3 separate regions of the Homo sapiens genome follow, and all the other regions are reported to be linked to region 1. Evidence: microRNA targets listed by miRTarBase, many of them from high-throughput screens and not tested one by one. Region 1 holds a microRNA gene; each other region holds the end of a gene's coding sequence.

Evidence for each region. The annotated mature microRNA hsa-miR-1-3p reads UGGAAUGUAAAGAAGUAUGUAU and lies in region 1 at 2,502-2,523, shown strand. An mRNA with a match to its seed (bases 2 to 7 or 8) in the 3' UTR can be bound and repressed. Matches are read on the target gene's strand: a 7mer-m8 pairs with bases 2 to 8, a 7mer-A1 pairs with bases 2 to 7 and ends in A, and an 8mer does both.
Region 2: miRTarBase lists MECR as a target of hsa-miR-1-3p. Seed matches in the 3' UTR shown: 7mer-A1 at 1,356-1,362.
Region 3: the mRNA of STXBP3 is a reported target of hsa-miR-1-3p. The part of its 3' UTR that is shown has no 7-base or 8-base seed match.

What each region holds. Positions count from the first base shown.
Region 1 is chr20:62,551,850-62,556,047 of GRCh38, forward strand. It overlaps MIR1-1 (microRNA 1-1), which reads left to right and starts at 2,457; the gene lies at 2,457-2,527. It overlaps MIR1-1HG (MIR1-1 host gene), which reads left to right. Exons shown (of 4, transcript NR_171007.1): 2 at 1,616-1,816.
Region 2 is chr1:29,190,354-29,194,353 of GRCh38, reverse strand. MECR (mitochondrial trans-2-enoyl-CoA reductase) reads left to right here. Exons shown (of 10, transcript NM_016011.5): 10 at 175-1,697. The coding sequence ends at 332. Among named protein-coding and RNA genes, the nearest start is that of SRSF4, 10 kb to the right of the region's middle.
Region 3 is chr1:108,808,346-108,812,345 of GRCh38, forward strand. STXBP3 (syntaxin binding protein 3) reads left to right here. Exons shown (of 19, transcript NM_007269.4): 19 at 438-1,178. The coding sequence ends at 532. Among named protein-coding and RNA genes, the nearest start is that of AKNAD1, 47 kb to the right of the region's middle.

The DNA.
Region 1 (4,198 bases):
ACTACAATTCATTTGTGAGTGGGCAGAAGTCCTGTGGACTCTGGCTGGGTCTGGGGTGACTCTCCTGCCCTTTGGGACTCCCAGCTTTCCCCTTGACCCCCAGACCCCGTCCAGATGAATGCCTCACAGGTCGTGGGGGCTTGAGCCAGGCTGCGGGAGTGTCCCAGGCTCTGAGAGCTCATGTGCCAGGGAGCTGGGGACGTTGAGGAGGCCTTTTCCCTGGACTCCGGGGACGGTTATTGCGGAGGTCTTGGGAGGGCACAGATGAGCGGCGGAACCCAGGTGCCCCCGAAGTTGAAGCTCAGGCTGCGGTGTCGGGTGCCCTTTTTGTATCCTTGGCTACGTGAAAATGATAAATCACAGCAGCTACGTGGAAATGGGACATCAGCTTCTGCTTCTGTCTGCCATTTGCTCCTTCCTTTGTAGAGGGGATGCCTCCAGAGCCTTAAGCACAACCCCCACCCCCCGCCCCCACCCACCCCCACGTGAAACTCCAACCCAGCCATGCCCAGCTGCAGACCCACTGCCACACAGCCACAGCATGCTCAGTGGCCTCTGCACACTGCAGGCTCTGCGGAGACATTGCCCTGCCCTGGGTGGTAAGAGAGAACCAACTCGCTCCGGGCTGTCCCCTCGCATGGACGGGCTGCCTGGAGGAGCAACAGAGTCATGTTGGACCTCTCTTCCTGATGAGGACAACGGGAGGTCCTTTCATGTCCCGGGGCTGCTGTCCCACCCCACGCCAGGGTCAGTGGCAGGACAGGGGCCAGGGCCCAGCTGGACCCCACCGCTTAGCAAGCCTCCTGTGTCTGTGCCCGGCCTGCACCCCCAACTGGCGCCTCCCTGGCCCCCGTCCCCCCCAGGCACCTGCAAAGCCTTCTTTCCACCTCTCACCACCGCACGTGCCAGGCTCGCCCTGGGCCACTGCGAGGCCTCGAAACCCTGCAGGCCTCCTCCTCCTCCTCCTCCTCCTCTCCCCGCTCCCAGCAGGTTCGGGGCGGCTTCCCTTCCTGCTGGTGAGGGCCTAACCTTGAGGTCCCATTGGTCTCCTTCTGGCTCTTTCTCCACATTTTTCAGAGTCTGGCTTCACGGCTGGTCATAGAAGTTGGCAGGGAAGGAGGCAGCCTCTGCTTCCCACTCAGAGACATTTTTAAACGCAATGAAAAACATATCGATACAATTAAGTATTCCAAAGTGCTTAGTTTGCCACTCGCTAAGTTTACTTAAACCCTCTTTAACAGGCTCATTAGGAGCTGGTGAGCACCGGGAAATTCATTAACAGGAAGGCGGCCCCCTGCATTTGACTGTAAATTGGTATTGATCAGGGGCTGGTGGAGGCTGGGCGGCTGGCCACAAAGAGCCAGGTGTGGGACCAGCCTCCCGGGGGTGCCACGGCAGTGGCGCTGGGCAGGTGACGGTGGCTGCTGACCCCCGGTGCCCATGTAAGCTGCTGGCTCTGCGCAGCTGCCGCTTCAGGTGGGCCGCACTGCGCGGCGGTTCAGGGTGGTGACGCTGCGAGGCGGGGACGGGGGAGAGGGTGAAGAAGAGCGAGAGAAGGAGGGAGAGAACCGGGGGAGCGACGCTCCCTCGCCCACTGGGTGTCTGCTGTGGCCAGGCTGAGGCACCTAGGGAGTTGCCCCCCTAGTGGACGGCCTCTCAGGAGATCCTGACCACCCTCTGGGAACCTGGACTCCTCCAAGCATCGTCTTTCTCGCCTGCATCTTCGGAGAGAGGTGCTGAGCCCTTCCTCATGGATACGGGGTCCCGGGAGGCAGCCTTCACCAGGGACCTGCCCAGGAAACCAGCAGATGCCCAGGTAAGCCCCCAGGACACCTCTCGGGTCTCTGGTCTGCAGTTCCTCGTCTGGCCTCAGGAGCAAGGAGTTGTCCAGCTCCCGGAGAAGGAGGAGGCTGGTCCTGCGAGTGGGGTGCTGGGCAGGGCGCCCCCCAAGGTTCCTCTCTCCACCCAGCCCTCTCTGGGCTTGGCTGGGATGAGGTGACCCAGGGGGACAGGAAAGTGTTGGCTTTGAAAGTTTGGGACATGGATGATGCCTCCCTGCTCTGGGGTGAGGGTGGAGGGGCAGCCTGTCTCTTCCATGGACGCAAAACCGAGCTACTGCTGGGGCCAGGGACAGGCGCTCGAGACTTTCTGGGGCTCACTGTCCACTTCTGCCTTTCTGGATCGTGTGAGTGTGTGAGACAGACAGAGAGAGATGGATTCAGGGATGGAGGGGCGCCGAGGTCAGAAGGGGGCAGGGAGTCCTGGGCCCCTGGGGGTGGCTGGACACCAGGCAGCAGTGGCAGGAAGGCTGTCCTGCTCACACAGAGAGGGCTCCGGCAGTAGACTCCAGGGAAGAAGTTACACTGCCTCTGAGCTGCCTTCTCTACATCGCAGTGGGGTCAGCTTCTACCGGGGCGGCGTCCCGGGGTCTTGGAACTGCATGCAGACTGCCTGCTTGGGAAACATACTTCTTTATATGCCCATATGGACCTGCTAAGCTATGGAATGTAAAGAAGTATGTATCTCAGGCCGGGACCTCTCTCGCCGCACTGAGGGGCACTCCACACCACGGGGGCCGCCGCGGCCGACAGCCAGCCAGGCGGCTGTGGTGGGGGTGAGGCTGGGGCGGCAGGCTGCCTGGGCGTTGGTGGACGGTCGTGTCCCCGCCAGCATTGTTCTGTCACTTTGCCTGTGTCAGCAGGTGGAAGTGCTCACCAGACATTAAATATTCAGCTTGCTGACTGCGGCAGAGGGGAGGCGGCCTCCGGCAGGCGCGGGGTCCAGCGCGGGGCTGGTGAGGGCTGGGGGGTCGGGGCCGTGGCTGGAAAGCACGGAGTGGTGGCGGCGGCTCTGGGGGCTCCACTGATGGCCATCCTGGAAGAGGCCATCAGCCGGCAGAAAGGGCCACGTGTGGCCAGGGCAGAAACTGCTCAGAGGCACAAGACAAGAGCGAGTTTGGAAAAGGGCAGGTGGCTGGATGCAGAAAGGAGGGAGAGGCTGGGCAGCACATGGTAGAGTCTGCGGAGGGAAGGCACCTCCTGCACCTGCATCCAGCCCTCCCGGCTGTAGGGCAAGGCAGAGGAACTCGGAGGCATGTAGCCTCCAAGGAAGGCGCAGCCCACACGAGATGCTGGGGACGCGGGCAGGGTCAGGGCCACCACTGCCCTTAGGCCCCACTCCTCTGCCGAGGGCACCTGGGACAGGGTCAGAGGAGCTGAGTCTGTGCAGCCCTGAACCCACAGCCCACCCCAGGGGCCTGGGAGCCGTTCGATTTTGCCAAATGTCTGGTTCATGCCGCCCCAACCTGTACCCCCACCAAAGCCCCGGTTCAGCTTTCTCTCTGTTCCGCCGAATCCAACCTGAGGCATGTTTTGCTGTGAATGCAGGTGAGGCTTTGGCAGAAAGCAGCGTGTGGCCCAGGGCCCCTTGCCCCACCTGTCGGGGGCCTGAGAGCCATCTGCTCTGCCGCCATCCCAGTCCTGACCCGAGAAAGGACTGGGAGGATGTCCTGGGGCCCAGGGGATGAGGGCAGGTCCGGATCCGTCCGTGAAACCCTTTTCCCCAGTGCTGGTCCTTCAAGGAGAGGATGGGCGGCGGGTTCTGGGGTCTTAGGCAGCGGCTGGGCTGCTGTGTGAGGGGCGTTTGCCCGGCTCGTTTCTGAGTCTCAGATTGGAGGCGTTTGCCACCTGGGATGAGGCCAGGTCCCTGCCTGGGCACCCCCACCCTGCCACAGGCCTCAGGATTAATTTCTGGGGTGTGTGTCCTCTCTGCCTTGGCACTGCTCCAGCCACAGCGGTGCCCCTGTGCCCTACCTCCCGCACCCTGGCCTTCGGCAGGAATGAGGCGGGAAGGGACAGGCAGGCAGCCCCCTCCTGCAGCGGCTGGAGGCCTTGGGTCTGGGGGCAGCCAGGTCACCTGAGCAGCTGGGGCCAGCATAGGGAGCGCTGGATAAAGGGATTGGGGGCCGTTCTGAGCTTTCAGGTGGCTCCCACCCCTCAGGGAGCCTCGAGGTGACTGGAGGGGAGGGCCTGGCAGTCAGGGCTCCTGGCCTTCAGGTCTTCCTTCTGGAAACTTCGTTCTCCCAGCCTCAGCCCCATCTGGCGTAGCAGCAAGGGGGCGGGTGTTGACCTCGGGCACAGCCTCCTCTCGGCCTCTGGACCCGGAGGGTCAGTGCCCAGCATCCGCTGACGTCATCTCT
Region 2 (4,000 bases), not on the chromosome of region 1:
AAAGACAGGCAGGGACCAGGCTGCCTCCACAGCCACCCTATCCTTGGCACAGCCAGGACTCTCAAGGCTTTATTGGAGCTTGGTGCCAGCTCCTGCCCATAGGGCAGCCCCGTGCCACATCTCACCAAGCCCCAGCTGCTGTTCTCTTGTCTGATTTCCTCCAACCTCCCGCAGACCAGTTCAAGGAGCTGATCCTCACACTGTGCGATCTCATCCGCCGAGGCCAGCTCACAGCCCCTGCCTGCTCCCAGGTCCCGCTGCAGGACTACCAGTCTGCCTTGGAAGCCTCCATGAAGCCCTTCATATCTTCAAAGCAGATTCTCACCATGTGATCATCCCAAAAGAGCTGGAGTGACATGGGAGGGGAGGCGGATCTGAGGGGCTGGGTGCAGGCCCCTCAGTTGGGGCTCCCACCTTCCCCAGACTACTGTTCTCCTCACTGCCTCTTCCTATTAGGAGGATGGTGAAGCCAGCCACGGTTTTCCCCAGGGCCAGCCTTAAGGTATCTAATAAAGTCTGAACTCTCCCTTCCAAAAAGTAGAAGTCATCCCTGTCGAGAAGGACCAACACTGTGCACTGGTCAGCTCACAGCACCAAGAGGCCCCCTTCCTGCTTTTCTGTCATGTGTTCCCCCAGTAATCATTTTCTGACCACCCTGAAAGCAAAGCCTGGGTGGGTACTGGCAGTGCAAAGGCCAGTAGGCCACCATCCCTGGCCCCAAGCTGCACAAGCCCACAGACGAGGGTCCTGTAGAACAAACGCTTTGATGTGCTTCTCAGGTAGCCTGCGGCCCAGTCCAGGGCTTGGGGAGGATCAGCTGCATGGAAGAGTGAATGCCAGGCTGAGGTCATCAGGGCCCTGAGGAACTTGGACGTGGGGTCTTCACTCTCATGGAACTGCCCTTCTAACTGGAGACATAGACAATATACCAGTGGTTCTCAACCAGAGGCAATTTTACCCCCAGGAGACATTTGACAATGTCTGGGGATATTTCTGGCTATCACAGCTTATGAAGGAGGTTGCTACTGGCATCTAGCAGGCAGAGTGAGTGCTGCTGTTAAACCCACCACAGGACACAGAACAGTCTACTGCAACAAAGAATTACCCAAGGCCTGGCGCGGTGGCTCACACCTGTAATCCCAGCACTTTGGGAAGCCAAGGCAAGCGGATCACTTGAGCCCAGGAGTTCAAGGTCAACCTAGGTAACGTGGTGAAACACCATCTCTACAAAAAATACAAACATTAGCCAGGTATGGTGCTGTGCACCTGTAGTCCCAGCTACTCGGGAGGTTGAGGTGGGAGGATCACCTGAGCCTGGGAGGTCTAGACTGCAGTGAGCCATGATCATGCCACTGCATTCCAGCCTAGGCAACAGAGCAAGACCCTATATCAAAAAAAAAAAAAAAATCTAGCCCCAAATGTTCAATGTTCATGAGGTCGTTGATAAACCGTGCATTAAACAATCTCACAGTAATTACCATAGTGACTAATGCTGTAAAGAAGATATGTGGGGTGCTGTAAGAGCAGAATAAAGATCTTGCCCTAGGCCCCAGGGACAGGGGTATGCTTCCTTGAGGTGAAGTTTGAAGGTGGGCTCTCACAAATGAGTGAGCTTTATTCAGGCCGAGAGAAGAGCTTGACGTGACTTTTTGGTATTTGCTTCACGATTCATTTGCTCAAAGCAAAGAACAGAGGCTTCAGGGTGTCTCCCTTATCACCTGGCCCTCTGTACCCTGCACTCAGGAGCCTCATTCAGGACGTATTTATTGAGTGCCTAGTGTGTGCCCAAAGCTAAGGATACCAATGAAAGAAGTGCTGCTGGCCCTCAGGTTGCTTAGCCTAGTGCAAGATTGACCAGTATAGTATAATGATGAGGTCACTGACATGGAGGTGTTCAGAGGGCCTTGAGAGGACACACAGGGGCCCCAGTTCTGCCCGAGGGCATCAAGGAAGGATTCCTAGAGGAAGTGTCTCCCACAGCCAGTCTTGAAAACCGAGCAGGAAACTGCGTACCAAGCAAAGCCAACAGCACATGAGAGTTTAGAGGCCTGAGAGCCTGGCACTCAGGGAACTGCAGTCAAGTGTAGCTGCTGCCTTAGACGTGGGGGAAATGTGGGAACTGAGGTGGGAGACATGGGTGAGGTACAGATCACAAAGGACCATGATGTCAGGGCTTACCCTGAAGCCCTAGGGAGGCACCAAGGGATTTTAGGCAGTGGAGCAATATGGAAAAAACTGGCTCGGAATGTTTGTTTTTTTTTTTGAGACGAAGTCTCACACTGTTGCCCTTGCTGGTGTGCAGTGGGCGATCTTGGCTCGCTGCAGCCTCAACCTCCTGGGTTCAAGCGATTCTCCTTCCTCAGCCTCCCGAGTGGCTGGGACTACAGGTGTATGCCACCACACCTGGCTAATTTTTGTATTTTTAGTAGAGATGGGGTTTCACTATGTTGGCCAGGCTGGTCTTGAACTCCTGACCTCGTGATCCACCCACCTCGGCCTCCCAAAGTGCTGGGTTTACAGGCGTAAGCCACCACACCCGGCCAGAAGGTTTAATTGCATGCCAGTTTGAACATGGACTCCCAGCATAATCATCTTTTCTTTGGAAGCATCTTTTATGTCCGCTGGAAAAAAGGACTCAGCTTCAGCCTGGGGCTGGGAAAGGTCTGCATTGCCCTCTGGGGAATATTTGCCACCTTCTGGGCTCAAGATCAGCCCCAACTCTTTCCTGGTCCCTGTCCTCTAGGTTAGTGGGACAAGTGATTGTACAGATGATCAGTGCAGGCAAGTGAAAAAAGCCTTAGAAGGAGGGAAGGCTGCCAGAGGCCACAGGAGTAAAATTAAGATTAGGTTCTTTAGGCCAGGTGAGGTGTCTCACACCTATAATTAGACAGGCGTGCTGGTACATGCCTGTAGTCCCAGCTACTCAGGAGGCTGAGGCAGGACAGTCACTTGAACCTGGGAGGCGGAGGTTGCAGTGAGCTGAGATCACGCCACTGCACTTCAGCCTGGGCAAGAGAGAGAGACTCTGTCTCAAAAAAAAAAATAGGATTCTTCAAGGGGAATCCATAAGGTTGGGGTTTAGGGAGAGTGGTGAGCCTGAGTCCTGGTGAAGGAGCAGGCCCCTGGTGCCCACTCTAAGAGCAGGCATACAGGAATGTTTGTAACACCACGCTTCAAGATCTGGAGGAACGTGCAGAATGCCTGAGAACAGTGAAGGCAATGATTCCTTGTACCTTTAGGGGTCTGGAGGTGACATTTGGGCTGGTCTTCAAAGGATGATTATAATTTATTCAGGGAAGGGTGACAAGCATTACAGACGAAGAGAGCAGATTAGGCAGTTACAGAGACAGGGTATTTATGTTAGAACTGTCTCATTTTCTCCATTCTCTTCCTGAGAATTAAAACCTACAACTTTTAGGTGGGTACATGGCAGGCCGGAATAAACACTGTTTCTCTGCATCCCTTGCAGCTAACAAGATCTGCCCCCGCAAGTGATGTAAGCAGAGGTGTTAGGCGTCAGTTTCTTAGGAACCTCTTTTTTTTTTTTTTTTTTTTATTTGGAGAGATGATGGAGTCTTGCTCTGTCACCTACGTTGGAGTGCAGTGGTGCAATCTCGGCTCACTGCAATTTCCACCTCCCAGGTCCAAGTGATTCTCCTGCCTCAGCCTCCCGAGTAGCTGGGATTACCTGCCACCACGCCCAGCTAGTTTTTGTTATTTTTAATAGAAACAGCGTTTCACCATGTTGGACAGGCTGGTCTCGAACTCCTGACCTCAGGTGATCCGCTGGCCTCTGCCTCCCAAAGTGCTGGGATTACAGGTGTAAGCCACTGCGCCCTGCCCAGGAACCTCTTTAAAATATAGCAGGCCTGCATCCTGTACCTTTTTCTTCCCCTTCCCCTTCCACCCTCCTTATAGCTGTGGTACACAGACATGATTCCTGGAGTTTACCCAGCCATCTTTGACTACGGTTTTTTTTTGTTTTGTTTTGTTTTGTTTT
Region 3 (4,000 bases), not on the chromosome of region 1:
TACAAAAAATTAAAAAATAAGAATTTCAGTCAAAGCCAATGATAGGTAAACTCTCCTGACCCATGGAGGCGATGGATCTGTGTGTTAAGCCTTGACCTGCAGCACTGCTTAGTGGATCTCTATTATTGAACAATAACTGTTATAGTGCTGAGGATAGGATAATCCCGTTTTGCCCTTCATTATACCAACGTATAGCACAAAGTAGACAAAGCACTAGGAATGGCCGCTGTTTCTGAAAAGTTACTGAACATGCTCAGTGGTGAAGAAGGATTGAAATATTGCAGCATAGGCAGATTTCAGGAAGATGTCTTACAGAAATTTTGTTACATTACCCCAGGCTACTGCACTTTACATATTTGAAGGACAACACATTATATTAAGCGAAGGAAAATTGATTTAACTGCTGGCCTCTGAAAAATTCTCTTTTCTCCTACCAGGTTCTACACATGTTTTAACACCCAAAAAGCTGTTGGATGATATAAAGATGCTGAATAAACCCAAGGATAAAGTCTCCTTAATTAAAGATGAATAGCATTTCTTTTTGGAGGGTTTAGAGATTCTTACTAATATGTTGAACTAAAATAGAAAGAAAATGTTGCTGTCATGTAATTTAAACAATGTAAATATTTTATGGAATAATGGCTTTTCAAATACATTTCTTAAGGAACTGTTTATGATTATTACTGGATTTGTCATTTTTGATAATTTAAATATTGCTGCTGCTTTGTAGATGATGAGAAGAAATGTTAAAGTGCTTTCTAAAAGGAAATTTTTTCACCTTTGGAGGAGAATATATTAGAGTTGTGGGTAATTTTTCACAGCCACCTATGTACATACTAATTACCCATTGGATACTTATATCTAAAAGTCTCATGCTGAAGTATAGTTTTTGGGAAAGAATGATTTTAAATAAAGAGATTGTAAAAGTAAAAAACTGTAAATGTATATGTATGATAGAATTGTTTCCTCTAAGTGTAGTTTTTCTTTCAACTAAAATTCAGTTTATGTGTAAAATAATTCAGTCATTAATAGAAATGGAGTGATTTCACAGTGTGTACTGTTTTGCCACATACTTCTAAAGAACACAATTTTATATAATTTTGAAATCATGTATGTTTAAATTAGAAAACCAAAAATCATGAACATTCTAAGAGAAAATAAATATAGAATTTAAAAAATTATTCTGGTTTGTGTTTTCTGTAGGGGAGAGGGGAAAGTTACAAATTTTAAAAGTTCTAAATTAGAGTAACAAAGAAGAAAAGGAATCTACCGTAATATTCCCACCAAGATAACTCCTAATGACTTTTTCAAAAATAACGTAATCTCTATATAGGGTTAGATAATATATGTCTGCAGATGTGTTTTGTTAAACAAAGGGAACATCTTTGTTTCAAATCTCTTCTTTTACTTGCCCTCATAGTGTTCTGTCATATGGCAGACCATAGTTTTATTGATTCAGAGTTTTGCTCTTATAAATAATGCTGCGTTGTTTGGGTACATACCTTTGCAGACTTACACAGACATTTCCATAATGTAAATTCCTAGCAGTGGTCAAGGGATTTGTGCATTTAAATATTGATGGATATCCATTTTTAATTTTTATTTAAGTAAATCCATCGCTTTTCCATTTTGGCTTCTGAATTTCACATGCTACTTAGAAATACCTTCCACACTCCAGGATTATAAATTTTTGATAGATTCATTCTATTTTTTTACAGGTAACTCACCCATCTGGAATTGATTTTAGTGTAAGAATGTGTGCTAGATATTGTCTCTTAGTACTTGGCATGACGTCCCATGCCTCCTTACCCCATACCACAGGGGATGAAAGGCTAAACATGAAGTTTTTCAGGTTCTAGGATAAGTAAGGTCTGAACAGTTTATATTCTACCAATGATGTGCACTTGGTCAAGATTTGGAGGCAGAGGCCATCTACTATGCCAGTAAGCAATCTCCCGCAGACAGGAATTGTTTGTAGCAACCAGACTCCACATTTTAGTGTCTTGTCGCCTGCTTCGTGGGTATGAGTTAATGCTGTGGCAGCAGCACTAGCTTCCTGTCCTTTGGGTCACAGATGGTAAAATGATCGTGGGTCTCCAGTTTCTGCTCCTACTGCTTTTTCAGTGATTTTTGTAACGACCTAATTCTCTGTATTAAATGCCTTTCTGCTTGAAATATCTAGAGAAGTTTGTTTCCTGCACAGAACCCTGACTTGATGGAGTATTTCATAGTGGTCCAGCTTCACTCCTTTCTAAACAGCCAGATGTTATACCAGATCCTATTGGATAATCTCTCTTTCCCCAACTAATCTGAAATACCACCATTATCATAGACTAAATTTCCATTTGTATTGTGGTCTATTTCTGGATTCTCTTTTAATGACCTACAGTTTGTTTTGTATTTCTTTTTCCCTATTTCAATTCATGGTATGTTTCAATATGTAGTGGAAGAAGTTCCTATTCAATCCACCTAAATTACTATTATTTTTCAGAAATTTTCTATCAGATTTTTCTAGATGAATTTTAGTATCCTTTTGTTGAGTTCCCAAAAAAAGCCATTTTGGTATTTTCATAGGATTTGCATTGTTCCTAGGTTAACTTAGGAAAAATCAACATCTTTTATAATATTGAAACTTTGATATTCAGGAATGTGAAATGTCTTTTCATTTAAATCTTCATAACCTTCAGAATCTTCATTTTCTTCATATAGTTACTGCACATTGTCAAAATATTTTTGTAGTTCCTTTGTGGGTTGAATCTTCTACTATTTTCAAATGGTTTTTTACACATAGAAATTTATTTATTTTTTTTTAAATAGAGACAGGGTCTTGCTATGTTACCCAGGCTGGAGTGCAGTCATGTGATCATAGCTCACTGGAATTTTGAACTCCTGGGCGATAGTGATCTTCCTGCCTCAGCCTCCCAAGTAGCCAGGACTACAGGTATGGGCCACCACATATGGCTAATTTTTGGGTTTTTTTGTTTTTGTTTTTGTTTTTTTGTATAGACAGTCTCACTGTGTTGCCCTGGCTGGTCTCAAACTCCTGGGCTTAAGCAATCCTCCTTCTCAGCCTCCCAAAGTGTGGGGATTACAGGTGTGAGCCATTGTGCCTGGCCAACTTTTGATATGTTAATCTTACAACTTTACTAAGTATTGATAATAAAGTAATAATATACAAATGCTTACTTAGTGCTTTCTATTATTAATTCATTCCATCTTCTCGTGTATTCCTGTGAGCATAGGTACTGTGATTATCATCTTTATTTTAAAGCTGAGGAAACCGACACAAAGAGATGGATGTAACTTGGTGTGGATGAGTGCATGGAAAGGAAGGGCCTGGCACAATAAACAGCCCTCTTTGCAAACTACGCATGAAAACAATATATCTCCAGTAAGAGGATTAGTTTTTGGTGTCTGCATTTTATCTGAGATCTTTGTGTGCCTCAGTAACTCCCTCTCCAGGGTCAGAACATGTGTGGAATAGGTATTTAGATTAATCCAATGGCCTGGAACAAATGGAACTAAGAGTGTGATGACAGCAAACACTGGACTGTTTATTCATTTGATCACTTGACATCTCAGTGACCACTTTACCCTGATCACACTGATATCGGATGTTTTGAGTCCTGTATTTCACATATATGTTAAGCTTTGAATTGCAGAGACCCTTTGTTTACAAAATCTCTTATGAATTTGAAGCCATAAGACGTCATCTCACATAAATTCCTTGTATAAGCTGATTTTTTTTCCCCCATAGAATTAGCAATTACAGGCCAAAGCAGGAGGATCACTTGAGCCCAGGAGTTTGAGACGAGCCTGAGCAACATAGTGAGACCACATCTTTTTTTTTTTTTTTTCGTTCTATGAATATTCCAAAAGTGAGACCACATCTTTACAAAAAAAGGAAAAAAAAAAAAGCTGGGTGTGGTGACACGTACCTGTGATCCCAGCTACTACTCAAGAGGCTGAGGCAGGAGGATTGCTTGAACCAAGGAGGTGG